Homo sapiens: one gene and its partners. The protein of the gene in region 3 interacts with the protein of the main gene of each other region in a biochemical or structural test. Each region holds a gene or a part of one and is shown on either strand. Other genes may lie near its edges.

Region 1 (2,776 bases), on a different chromosome or scaffold from region 3:
TGTATTTTTAGTGGAGAGCTGTGATCACCACACTGCACTCCAGCCTGGGTGACAGGTGGGATTCTGTCTCAAAAAAGTAAATAAATAGGGTTGAGCACAGTGGCTCATGCCCGTAATCCCAACATTTTGGGAGGCTAAGACAAGCAGATCACTTAAGACCAGGAATTTGAGACCAGCTTGGCCAACATGGTGAAATCCCTTTACTAAATACACAAAAATTAGCTGGGTGTAGTGGTGCATGTCTGTGGTCCCAGCTACTCAGGAGGCTGAGGTGAGAGAATCACTTGAGCCTGGGAAGCAGAGGTTGCAGTGAACCGAGATCACACCACTGCACTCCAGCCTTCTCAACAACAAAGTAAGTAAGTAAAGCTCATCACAGATACATAGTGTAATGACTTAGAAAGAGTTCAAAAGACATCACTGGGCCAGGCACAGTGGCTCACGCCTCTAACCCCAGCACTTTGGGTGGCCAAGGTGGGTGGCTCACCTGAGGTCAGGAGTTCAAGACCAGCCTGGCCAACATGGCATAACCCTGTTTCTACTAAAAATATAAAAATTAACTGGGTGTGGTGGTGGGTGCCTGTAATTCCAGCTACTTGGGAGGCTGATGGAGATTGCAGTGAGCTGAGATCACACCACTTTACTCCAGCCTGGGCGACAAAGCTAGACTCTGCCTCAAAAAAAAAAAAAAAAAAAAAAAAAAAAAAAAAAGACATCACTGAATTAATGATCACTCTGGTTCACTAATTGATGCCCACATGCCTAGCCCATGGAATAGGGGTAGTATCCTCAAAGGATGTGGGCCTTCAGGGGCAGCATTACTCTGTGTGTCTGTTGCTTGCTGAAAGGTACAAGGACTCCACATTACCCAGTCATACCTTAAATCCAGTTGGGCACCAATCTACAAACTGGATGGTGCGCTTGGTCTTGATGGTGGCGATGGCCGCGTTGACATCTTTCGGGACCACATCCCCCCTGTACAACATGCAGCAGGCCATGTACTTGCCGTGGCGAGGGTCACACTTGACCATCTGATTGGCTGGCTCGAAGCAGGCATTGGTGATCTCAGCCACGGACAGCTGCTCGTGGTAGGCCTTCTCGGCTGAGATGACCGGGGCGTAGGTGGCCAGGGGGAAGTGGATGCGGGGGTACGGCACTAGGTTGGTCTGGAATTCCGTCAAGTCCACATTCAGGGCCCCGTCAAATCGCAGGGAGGCCGTGATGGAGGACACGATCTGCCCAATCAGGCGATTGAGGTTGGTGTACGTGGGACGCTCGATGTCCAGGTTGCGCCGACATATGTCATAGATGGCTTCATTGTCGACCATGAAGGCACAGTCAGAATGTTCCAGGGTCGTGTGGGTGGTCAGGATGGAGTTGTAGGGCTCCACCACGGCCGTGGAGACCTGGGGGGCTGGGTAAATGGCAAATTCTAGCTTGGACTTCTTGCCGTAATCCACTGAGAGCCGCTCCATGAGCAGAGATGCGAACCCAGAGCCAGTGCCACCCCCAAAACTGTGGAAGATGAGGAAGCCCTGCAGTCCCGTGCACAGATCCGCCTGAGGGAAACCAGACAACATGAATCAATGCCCGTGGAAGCCACACCACCAACCTCCACCAAGCCAGGGCCACTTCTCTGCCTCTGAAGACTTGATATGGATTCCAATCATCCATAATAAACACGCAGTACACTCTGAAGCAAAGAAAAGCAGACAAAGATCTACAGACAAATCACCATGCATACTTCAGACTAAGACCATTGCAGACGCAATAGGACTCAAGATACTGTTCTAAGTTGTTTTTTTTTTTTTTTTTTTAGATAGAATCTCACTCTGTTGCCCAGGCCGGAGGGCAGTGGCATGAACTCCGCTCAGTGCAACCTCTGCCTCCCGGGCTCAAGCCATTCTCCTGCCTCAGCTTCCTGAGTAGCTGGGACTACAGGCAGGCACCACCACGCCTGACTAATGTGTGTATTTTTAGTAAAGACAGGGTTTCACCACGTTGGCCAGGCTGGTCTCAAACTCTTGACTTCAGGTGACTGCCCACCTTGGCCTCCCAAAGTGTTGGGATTACAGGCGTGAGCCACCAGACCCAGCCAACGCACTGGTCTAGGTTTTGACAAAATGACCTCCCCTTCACAATCTAAGATCTACCCTCCTGTGCAGGACAATGGTCACATGAAGCCTTCTCTTCTTACCAGTTTGCGGATCCGGTCCAGGACCAGGTCGACGATCTCCTTGCCGATGGTGTAATGGCCTCTGGCGTAATTATTGGCCGCATCTTCCTTCCCGGTGATCAGCTGCTCTGGGTGGAAGAGCTGCCTATAGGTTCCTGTGCGCACTTCATCTACAAAAGAGACCGTATGTACTGTGAATCTTTAAGGCCTATACTCACCAAGATGGACACATTCCAGGACTGTTCACTTCTACAAAGTACATGCTGTTCAAAGTACATGACCTACATGTTGTAGGTCAACAGTGGCAGTGTCTGGTAGAAAATGTCTCTGTGTGATAACCAAAGTGCAAATGTGTGATAACCAAACTGTGATTTATGACTCTAGGAAGTGAAACTCAGCTTACAATATAAATGTCAGCACGACCAGCTCCCAGTGAAGGGAAATAAGCTCCAGCACCCCCACACAGGTAATTCTACAGGTACATAATTCTTTCCTACATGTAGCTACATCGAAGGCTGTAAGTTAAAAATGCTTACAAACTGAGAAGTCACCAGGTCAGTGTGACTTCTGCAGGGCAGTCCCATCAGGGCACCCTGTGTG
Region 2 (3,500 bases), on a different chromosome or scaffold from region 3:
CGTTCAAACCAAGAGAATGGGCTTTCCAGAAAGCGGGGGGATTAGAACAGACACATTTCTGGCTTGAGAGGCCCCTGAGTCACTCTGCCTTAGAAGTAAGGCGCTGGCCTAACCAACCCATGAAGACCCCTCCAGCCTTTCACTTTAGGGCTTGGTGTGAGTGCTTTGCTTTCATCTTCAAACATACACAGTGAATAATAGATTTTGAATGTTTGCTGGGTGAAGCATCCCTCCTATAAGCTCCATAATCCTCATCGTGGTACAGTTTGATGATTAATGTCTGTACTCCTAACTAGAACAGATTTCAAGAGGGCAGGCACTGTTGGTCTCGTTCACCACTACATACACAGCCTAGAACAGCTGCTGTGCAAAGCAGGTGTCAATACATGTCACCAAGCAAATGAATTCACACGATAAAAAGTTCAGGATCATGACACTCAAGAAGTGACTCTGAAAGGCATGAGAAAACAGGCAACCGCACAAACAGGGCTGGAATACCAGGCTCCCTGAAGCACTGTGTACACTGCATTCCTTCCATCAATACATACTGAGCACCCATGATGTGCCAGGTGCCCCTAATTCCTGGGACCATGGGGGAAAACAGAAAGACAGGCCAGGCATGGTAGCTCACGCCTGTAATCCTAGCACTTTGGAAAGCCAAGGCGGGTGGATTGCCTGAGCTCAGGGTTTCAAGACCAGCCTGGGCAACACAGTGAAACCCCATCTCTACTAAAATACAAAAAATTAGCCCGGTGTGGCGATGTGCACCTATAGCCCAGCTACTCCGGAGGCTGAGGCAGGAGAATTGCTTGAACCTGGGAAGCGGAGGTTGCAGTGGGCCAAGATCACGCCACTGCACTCCAGCCTGGGCGAGAAAGTGAGACTCTGTCTCAAAAAAAAAAAAAAAGGCAGAAAAACAAGTTCCCCACCCTCATAGGCCTAAATTCTAGAAGAAGGAAATAAACAGTAAATAAATAAAAATGGGTAGGTATAGAACACGTCAGGGGGTAGGAGGTGCTGCTGAGAGAAATAACTTAGGAAATGAGGACTGGAGAGGACCTGGGGAGGGTGAGAGGTGCTACTCTTGAGAGAGGGATTAGGGGAGGCAATTCAACAGAGGCTGGAAGGAAATGATGGAAATTAGTGGGAGAACAGGGTGGAGACCTGAAGAAAGGGCACTCCAAGCAGAAGGAACCGCAAGTGAGGCAGAATGGGCTTGGTGTGTTCAAGGAACAGCAAGGAGGCCAGTATGGCTGAAAGAGAAGAAACAAGCAGGATTATAGAAGGAGAGGAGGCCAGATAGGGTCAGAGGGCCAGGTGATGTGAGACACAAGGCTGCCAGAGCAGAGGAATGATGCAGCAGGAACTGCATTGTAAAGGGGATCATTGGGGCCACTGCGGAAGGTTGAAAGGGAGGAAGAGCGGAATCAGGAAGTCAGGGCCAGGCGCAGTGGCTCACGCCTGTAATCCCAGCACTTTGGGAGGCCGAGGCTAGCAGATCACGTAAGGTCAGGAGTTCGAGACCAGCCTGGCCAACATGGTGAAACCCTGTCTCTACTAAAAATACAAAAATTAGCTGGGCGTGGCAGCACGTGCCTGTAAGCAGCCCAGGTAGGAAGTCATCAGCGTGTGGGTGGTATTTTCAGTTACGAGACAAGATGAGGTCACTAACGGGGCAAATGTGGAAAAAGGACGAGATGCTCCGAGGACTGAGGACTAGGGATGCCATGGCTCAGGCGGATCAGGAGGACCCAACAGAGAAGACCAGAAGGCACAGAGAAGAAAAGGGGCAAGGTGTGGGGTCCCCGAGCAAAGCATTTCAAGAGCATCACTGCCCACAGGCAGCACACCAGCACAGGGCGATGGCACCAGCCAGATCCGAGCTTAAACCTCACTTACCAACTGTGCAATCTTGGGCAAGTCACCTCTCGCTCTGAGCCTCAGTTTCCCCACCTGTCTAACAGGGGTGCTGGTAGTACTTGACTCATTGGGTGTTTGGGGAATTAATAAGTTTAGCTCAGTGCCTGGTACAGAGTGAGTGCTCACAGATTGTGGGGCTGCAGCTGTTAGCACCTGGGAGACTCCTGCCCAGGTTCCAAGACCACAGACTCAGGTTCAATCCTAGTACCAGCCAGCGAGATTCATGGAAAGAAAATCTGTGTGGTACTGGCACCGCTGCAACTAGGAATCCTGATCTCTCCCGCCCCAACCTCACCCAGACCAGCCAACTTCTCACATCCTTAGTCACGAGAGCAGAGCTTCCTGAACTGTGGGAATGGAGATGATTTTAGATGGTAAAGGGACACCCCATAAAATGAGTGAATCACAGAGTGAGCACGTCAGCCCATTACAGCTGTCTTCCAGCTCTTCTAGGTGCGTCAAGAGAAAGTCCCACGTTGATGCTACCATGTTTGTAATACCTTCTAGCACGCTACAAAGAGAAAGCAGGCCCTAGGCTCATCACCTCAACCACACCAAGCTGCATTTCAGTGATAGGGCTGGAGCTTCTTCAGTTTCACTGAAGTGGTGTTTGTGATCACCTTCTATTTATGGCAAAGGATACAGATTTTCCATTTCTAGAGGAGATACGAAGTTTTCTTTCTACACAAATTTGTGGAAGTAAAAATATAAAAGAGATGATTTAAAGAAAATGTCAAGAATGCCAGGCACGGGGGCATGCACCTGCAATTCCAGCTACTCGGGAGGCTGAAGTGGGAGCTCGAGGCCAGCCTGGGCAATATAGTGAGACCCTGTGTCTAATAAATAAATAAATAAAATGCCAAGTGCATGTGAATTAAGTGGCTTAAGGTGTGGAGGTGGTGGTGGAAGAGGCATTAAGGAAGATATCCGCAGGCAGTTCTTGAATGCCTGAAGCTTGTGAAACACTCCTTTTCAAGAACCCAGGGAAGCCTGTAACCCTAGCACTTTGGGAGGCCAAGACAGGAGGATCGCTTGAGCCCAAGAGTTCAGTGAGTTATGATCGGGCCAGTGCATACCAGCTCTTCAGGCTGGAATGAGCTATGATCAATTCTAAGCTGCAGTGAGCTATAATCACGCCACTACATTCCAGCCCTCCAGCCTGGGTGACAGAGCAAGACCCTGTCTCTTAAAAAACAACAATAACAACAACAAAAAGCAAGAACCCAGGGTATATGGCCTAAGGCAGCCATCCCACCCCTGAAGAAGCAAGTCAGAGTCCCAGCCACCTGCCAAGACTCAAGAATGTTCTACAGGGAGCAGGGATAGGGAGAAGGAGCTGGGCGGCAGCCAGGACTCCCAGTCCATGTGGGGCCCTGCCCCCACCCCAGGTGATAGGCAGGGGCAACTTTGGGCCTCACCCACCTGGGTGGGACAGGCAAGCTTGTCTGGGGGACTGCCAAGGAGGGTGTTAGCCTTTCACCCCTCTGCCAAGTCCCCATGTGCCCAGTGACCTCCAATGCAACCCCCACCCTCCTAGAGCTTTCACCACTCAGGGCTACACCAAAAGAGCCCAGCTGGGA
Region 3 (3,500 bases):
AAATGTACGTGCAGCTATTCCTGCAACAGTGCTGAGGGTAAAGTGATAGTGGAAACACAATATTCCTTGTAGGAGTCCCCATGTAAGCGCCCTCCGAGAGACTGCTTTCTCACATGCAACGCGGGGAATGGGAAAAGACAACTTGAAGATGAAAAAACAAACAACTTTTAAAATTTAACCTATTGCTTTCTACTTGGGAAACAAAAATATTATAGAATCTTCGGACAAACATGTGGAACTAATAATAACAACAGTAGAACAATAGCAATAGAACCTATACAGCCAAGCCCTACCATTAAGGGCTGGCAAAGAAAACATACTCTATAAGTGATTTTGTACATATTAGTTTTACCCCTTTCCACTTTCCTGCTCTGGGCCTATCCACTCCCTCCAGCATCCAAATGGTTAGTAGGTAGTTAGAATTAAGGTTACCTGAGTAATGTTGTACAAGCTGCTGAAGTGTTTCAAACTGGGCCCGGGTGGTAATGTAGTATCCACCATTGTCAAGTTTGCGAATTTTATAATGTTTGACATGGTCTCCTTTCATATCATCCCAATCACGGATAGAAAGTGAATAGGCACCTGGTAAACGTGGAAAGCATTAGCAGCTCCAATCATTTAGAGTATCAGCTTGCTTTTTAGGCCTCATTTTCTTGACTCTGATTAATAATTACCAAGGATGCACACACACATGTACACACACACAGCATCTCCACTCAGTAACAGGAAGAAGATGCTTCTTGATGTTCTGCAAATGTCAGAATATATTAGCAATAAAATGATTCTGCCCTTGAGACTGAAAGCTTCCTGGACATTTTTCTTAAACACACTGTTCGGTACCCCTTGTTGCATAATACAGCGTAGACTCAATTCCAACACTCCTTTCCCCCAAGGGTAAAGAAGGACCACGATGAATGGCTGAGCTTGCTTCCCTTGTCTTCTCTACCCAGGGGCATACTGGGAGGTAGCAGCAGCATGTGCAAAAGAAATCTAAGGCTTGTTTCTCTAGAAGTGAGCTTCAAGCTTCTGCTTTACAACACTTTTTACAGGAATGGATAATCTGGCAAATTAAGCTAGAGGCCACTACTCTTTTCTTCCTTGACCTGTCTCCTCTTGTGGGTTGTAAGGAGTTGTTAAATAATGAAAAGTCCAACAGTTGGAGGAAGAGAAGTGAAGTCCTCAGTTATTTAAAAAACAAAAGGAAAGCAAAAACAACCTGTATGACTGGCACCTGAGGAACTAAGATTTCAGAAAATCAAAATTCTAAAGGACTTCTGAAAATTCTACGATCTTGTGTGCCTGGAGCAGTGTAGCTGCATCCAGCCCGTTTCAGGAGGAAGGTCTTGATTTGGGGCCTCTGTAGTTCTTTTGGTGCTGTCTGCAGTTTTAGAGCCTGGAGGGAAGACTGAAAACAGGACTCCACTCACAAGGCAGGGAGGGTATGTGCCATTTTAAAATCCTTGTACATTAGAGATAAGCCTTTCATCCCCTCTGACTAATCCACAGATTTGAATGACAAGCCAACTTCTTCAACTCGTTATCTTACCTTTGGTGGTTTCACTCTCGCGGATAAGAAAGGTACCTCTTGGGTTTCCAAAGGACAATAGCTGTCGCTCAGCATCTTTTCGGCCAAGTTTTCCAAAGTACCACCTTTAAATTAGATCAAGGAAAGAAAATATTTTGAAATAGTCATTTACAAAATGCAACAGCATAGGCTTTTTTTTTGCCCATGAATTCCCCTCTCCTCCAATTTAGTCCTTAACCTTTCCCTGGATGTATTTTTTTTCTAGCTTAATTCAGTTCCTTTTCAATCTATCCTGGATTCTATCCCTAATTCATCTCTTTCACTCTTTAAAAAAAATCAGATTTGAGTTGTGGGTTGTTTTCCTCCCCTCTAGACATGACCAGAACTGGTTTGTGTTAAAACTGCCACCTGTATGCAAAAAACCAGAAATCTAAGACCTTGATTTGAAATGGTTACTGCAGGAGACCCTTTCCACACTTATCTAAAAGACTCTAGTCTGGGCATGGTGGCTCATACCTGTAATCCCAGCACTTTGGGAGGCCGAGGTGGGCAGATCACCTGAGGTCAGGAGTTTGAGATCAGCCTGGCCAACATGGTGAAACCCCAGCTCTACTAAAAATACAAAAATTAGCTTGGTGTGGTGGTGGGCACCTGTAATCCCAGGTACTCGGGAGGCTGAGGCAGGAGAATCACTTGAACCTGGGAGGCCCAGGCTGCAGTGAGCTGAGATTGTGCCATAGTATTCCAGCCTGGGTGACAGAGCAAAGCCGTGTCTCAAAACAAAACAAAACAAAAAAAACAAACGCCAGGCATGGTGGCTCATGCCTGTAATCCTAGCACTTTGGGAGGCCAAGGTGGGTGGATCATGAAGTCAGGAGATGGAGACAATGCTGGCTATCATGGTGAAACCCCATCTCCACTAAAAATACAAAAAATTAGCTGGGTGTGGTGGCATGCACCTGTAATCCCAGCTACTCAGGAGGCTGAGGCAGGAGAATTGCTTGAATCTGGAAGGTGGAGGTTGCAGTGAGCCAGGATTGCGCCACTGCACTCCAGCCTGGGCAACAGAGCGAGACTCTGTCTCATAACAAAAAATAAACAAAAAAACAAAACTCTTGAATCTCTTGATATCTAAGCATTATTGTAACTGCTGGGAAATAACAAAACACAGTCTTAATGTATATGAAGATAATCAAGCATTAAAAAAAGTCAGATTAGATAGATATGATATGAATAAAGGAATAGTATTTTCAATAACTTCCTCCCTATAAGAATTCTGAGAAAAACGCCCATGAGTACTTACTTGTATTTTGTTTTCCTCCCCTAGGTGTGTGAGGACTTGGATAAGTAAAGGCATTTATTTACCAAGCACCTGGATTGTGATCTGTGTTCATCATCTTCTTCTTCTTTTTTTTTTTTTTTTCTTGAGACAGGGTCTCACTCTGTCACCCAGGCTGGAGTGCAGTGGCATAATCATAGCTCACTGCAGCCTTGACCTCTCCAGGCTCAAGCAATCTTCCTACCTCAGCCTCCTGGGACTAAAGGTGCACATCACCACACCTGCTAACTAAAAAAATTTTTTTTGTAGAGGCTAAGAGTGGTGGCTCATGATTGTAATTCCAGCACTTTGGGAGGCTGAGGCAGGCAGATCACCTGAGGTCTGGAGTTCGAGGCCACCCTGGCCAACATGGTGAAATCCCAACTCTACTGAAAATACAAAAATTAGCTGGGCATGGTGGCATGTGCCTGTAATCTCAGCTATTCGGGAGGCTGGGGCACGAGAATTGCTTGAACCAGGGATGTGGAGGTTGCAGTGAGCTGAGACAGGGCCACTGCACTCTAGCCTGGGGACAGAGTGAGACTGTCTCCCTATGTTGCCCAGCATGGTCTCAAACTCCTGGGCTCAAGTGATCCTCTCGCCCTGGCCTCCCAAGTGCTGGGATTACAGGAGGGAGCCATCACGGTGGACCCTGTA
Region 4 (3,500 bases), on a different chromosome or scaffold from region 3:
TAAAAAGAGTACTTTGTGTACTGATATTATTTAAATGATCAACATTTTGATCACCTACCTTTTTTCTTAAGAATATAGTTAATTCAGCTTGTAACTAGTATTTTCCATTGTACATATTTTGAAATTGTATGAAAGGACAGCAAAAAAATATTAGCTTAAATAATTAAAATAATGGAATTTAGTGACTTGTTAGTTTACCTTACAATTAAAATGGAACTTTATTTTGTTTATCAGTATTTAGGCTATACTTTGAATAATTACAATTATAAGAAAGTTCTTCTAAAGTCAAAAGCAGTTGTCTATAATCTATCCTGCCATCAGGCTAAGTATATTTTGTGATTTAGAAACTGCATGTAGCTGCCAGCATTCCCATATGCGCATGCATGCTCTTGCCTTTTTTTTTTTTTCAAAGTTGAGCATTAAAATATACTTAGAACTCTATAGTTGGAAAAAAGAAATGGTTAAATGTGGAAGCCACTTATTTAATATGTTCTTTTAAGAGAGAAACAAGGTTTTATAAAAAGCATGAGAAATATATAAATTTAAGCAAATCACTTATGATCTAAAGATAGCACAAGTGAAGGCCTCACTTCTAGGATGTTGCAAGCAAGGTACCAATGCTGCCAGACCCAAGAAGAGTTTTAGCAGGAAAGGTTACACTTGGTTTGATTTTTAAAGCCAAAGCAAGAATTATGAGTCTTAAACCAAATATACTAACTTGGGCCATGGGGCAGAGTAACTTGGATAAAGACGGTATCATTGCCTGTGAAAGGAAACAAGAAAAAGTAGATTTTTTTCTTTCATTGATATATTCAACTCATCTGCAAAAATTTGTATTATGATGAAAATGTTATTGTCATTGTCGTTTTAAAGAATGCTGTAACAGTTTATAGTAAAACCTCATTACTACTTACTTTTGAGAAGAAAAAAATGATATCATATTGGGAATTTAAGATTCCTTTTAGCTTTACTTGATTTCATAATTATTAAATGAAAAACATTCATAAAAAAATCGTATATTACTGAAAGACTTTTTAAAATGTAGAAACCCAATTCAAGCAAAAAGTTCAGCTGGATGTATATAAATATGCCATTTAGTAAATATTATTTTGAAAACTCAAACTTGTGAAACAAGTAATAAGTTTATTTTATGTAAGTTGAAAAATAAAAAAGTTACTAATTATATGTCTTTCAAAAATGTTCTTGGGGCATATATTCTCATCACAAAATAACTAGCACTTTGGATATAAAACAAGCTTGAAATTGATACAGGGTTTTTCCTTTTATAGTCATAAACATTTTTTTTAAAGTCATTAAACATTTGGTGCCTAGACTCATTTTACATAGGAAATTCTGATAAATTTAAATTTAGAAAGTCTAATTTCAACAATATTAATTATTTTAAGGAAAAAACTGAAAATCAAAAGCGAAAGCCCCAAGAGCATTAAAGTAGGAAAATTGAGACAAAAAGCTAGGTGATCTATACTGATTCTAAATCAATATAGTTGTTTGTTTGTACAGTGTCTCATATTAACAACAGATGGAACAGATAACGTTATAACATCCAAGAGACTAAAATAATACTAGACTGTGGTAATTTTTTTTAAATTCAGATTTCGTTTTTTTTTTTTTGCACAATAGGCAATCCCTCACATAATTTGGAATATTAAGTTTATTCAAGCATATTTGGTCAGAAGGAGGGTGATCTCACATTCCAGATTTCTAGGCAGCCCTAATTTCAAATAATCTGTCCCATTATCTGATTTCCGTATGTACTGATATTTATTTGGAACCTATGATTCCTAAGTGTAGCAATCCAGCTAATTCTAATATTACCTTTCAGAAGATTAAAATTCATTTTTCTACTCTGAAATTACATGAAGCTGTTGCTCTGCCGATGATTTTCTTCCCTATTAGCCACCTATAATTGAAGATTGCCTGGTTGTAAAAGGGAGCCAGAGATCTGACGTAATAGAGATTAAAGGAGTATCTAGCTCTAGCGTTTACCCTACTTATATATGTCCCACTTTTCCTGGAAAAGAAATAAACATATCTCCTGGAGATATGCCTCAAGAACATGATAGTACACTTAATACAATACAGGAATAGGAGTAAAATCAAAACACAAGCTCATGACTGTTACAACTATAGTCTTTAATTGTACATATGCATGCACACTTGTGTACACAGATGTAAACTTGGCTTTGAGTATATTTATATATAGCACAGGCTTAGACTCATGCATTTGGTAAATTTGGGGCACTAGTTGTCTTATTGCCTGGAAAATACTATAGAAATTCTTTTAGAATTTTACATGCACTAATCAAGAAATATATGCTAGAAATTCTTGTCAGTTAGATACTGAGTAAATTTACTGATAATGACTTAGAAGTGAAATCTAATTAATTTAAAAAACAGTATTAATTTATTAAGCATAATCCCAGATGACAGACAAATGGTCCTCAATCTTGGCTGTACATTAGAATCCTATGGGAAGTTTTTAAAAAATACTGATACCAGGTACCAATGCCAGTCTAGTGTGGGCTGGGCCTACATATTTTTTTTAAGCTCCTCAACAGATGATACTATACAGTCAGGGTTGAAACCACTCTTAAAGATACTCCCCAGTTTATAAAGGAGTCATTCTTGATAGAAACAAGCATTTTTCTATAGAAAAAAAAAAAAAGATATGATAGATAACTTCTTAAACTCACAAAAGCCTGGTAAATGCAAATATATTTGGGATTAGAAACTCATCACCTACAGCAATCTTCCAGGAGGAAAAGCCTTGCGTTATCAGCTTGACATACTTGTAATACATTCTTTTTGTTGTTAAAGAGTCCCCTAAGGGATGGAAATGGAGAAGTCAGACCTCTGACTCCCTTTTATGACCAGGCAATCTTCAAACAGGAAGGTAAAAAGAGCATTTCATCATTTTCTCCTCTCTATTATAGCAGCAGAAACAAGTAGTGAGCCAGTGGTCTTTTCTCTTTTCTCAGCAACTGTCGTCATCACCTCAAAGGTGGACCTGGCCAGGGCAAGGTGTGGAGCAGGGCTTTGAATGTATGTGTGGCAGCACTAAGTACGTGGCCACTTCTCTGCCCTGTCTTTGCCACAACGCTTTCCATGACCACTCTTGCTCATTCTGAGGTCATCTTTCTATAAGCTTCTCCAGTATTTATGTCTTTACCACTATTTTTAGCGTTTAACTGTGAATCTCTTTGCACTATGATTATTTTTAATCTCTCAGTAAGACTGCAAGCTTTCCCAGTGAAGACGTGTAAGTGTTTAGCAAGGAATAAGATATGCAGCAGATACTGGCTGAAATAATTAATTATAGGTTTTTAAAAGTAGATTATTTTGGGAAAAAACCGTAAGAGTAAAAAAAGAATAGTATAGTATTATAACTGATAAAAAAAAATTCTAGTCAAACTCTGCCTTTTGAAAAACTTAAACAATGGAACTTTGTACTGCTTTGAGTGGAATATGTTGGGATGACA

The links.
Region 1: the proteins of FYN (region 3) and TUBA3C form a complex in vitro, tested with the Homo sapiens proteins (one study listed by BioGRID).
Region 2: the proteins of FYN (region 3) and HTR6 form a complex in vitro, tested with the Homo sapiens proteins (one study listed by IntAct).
Region 4: the proteins of FYN (region 3) and SOS1 form a complex in vitro, tested with the Homo sapiens proteins (one study listed by BioGRID).

Annotation. Positions count from the first base shown.
Region 1 is NC_000013.11:19,176,049-19,178,824, forward strand, and holds part of TUBA3C (tubulin alpha-3C chain), read right to left. Parts: intron 2,347-2,776; coding exon 2,198-2,346; intron 1,560-2,197; coding exon 879-1,559; intron 1-878. UniProt on the Homo sapiens protein: Tubulin is the major constituent of microtubules, a cylinder consisting of laterally associated linear protofilaments composed of alpha- and beta-tubulin heterodimers.
Region 2 is NC_000001.11:19,667,875-19,671,374, reverse strand, and holds part of HTR6 (5-hydroxytryptamine receptor 6), read right to left. Parts: intron 1-3,500. UniProt on the Homo sapiens protein: G-protein coupled receptor for 5-hydroxytryptamine (serotonin), a biogenic hormone that functions as a neurotransmitter, a hormone and a mitogen. Also has a high affinity for tricyclic psychotropic drugs.
Region 3 is NC_000006.12:111,702,453-111,705,952, forward strand, and holds part of FYN (tyrosine-protein kinase Fyn), read right to left. Parts: intron 1,651-3,500; coding exon 1,547-1,650; intron 583-1,546; coding exon 433-582; intron 1-432. UniProt on the Homo sapiens protein: Non-receptor tyrosine-protein kinase that plays a role in many biological processes including regulation of cell growth and survival, cell adhesion, integrin-mediated signaling, cytoskeletal remodeling, cell motility, immune response and axon guidance.
Region 4 is NC_000002.12:38,988,552-38,992,051, forward strand, and holds part of SOS1 (son of sevenless homolog 1), read right to left. Parts: intron 764-3,500; coding exon 719-763; intron 1-718.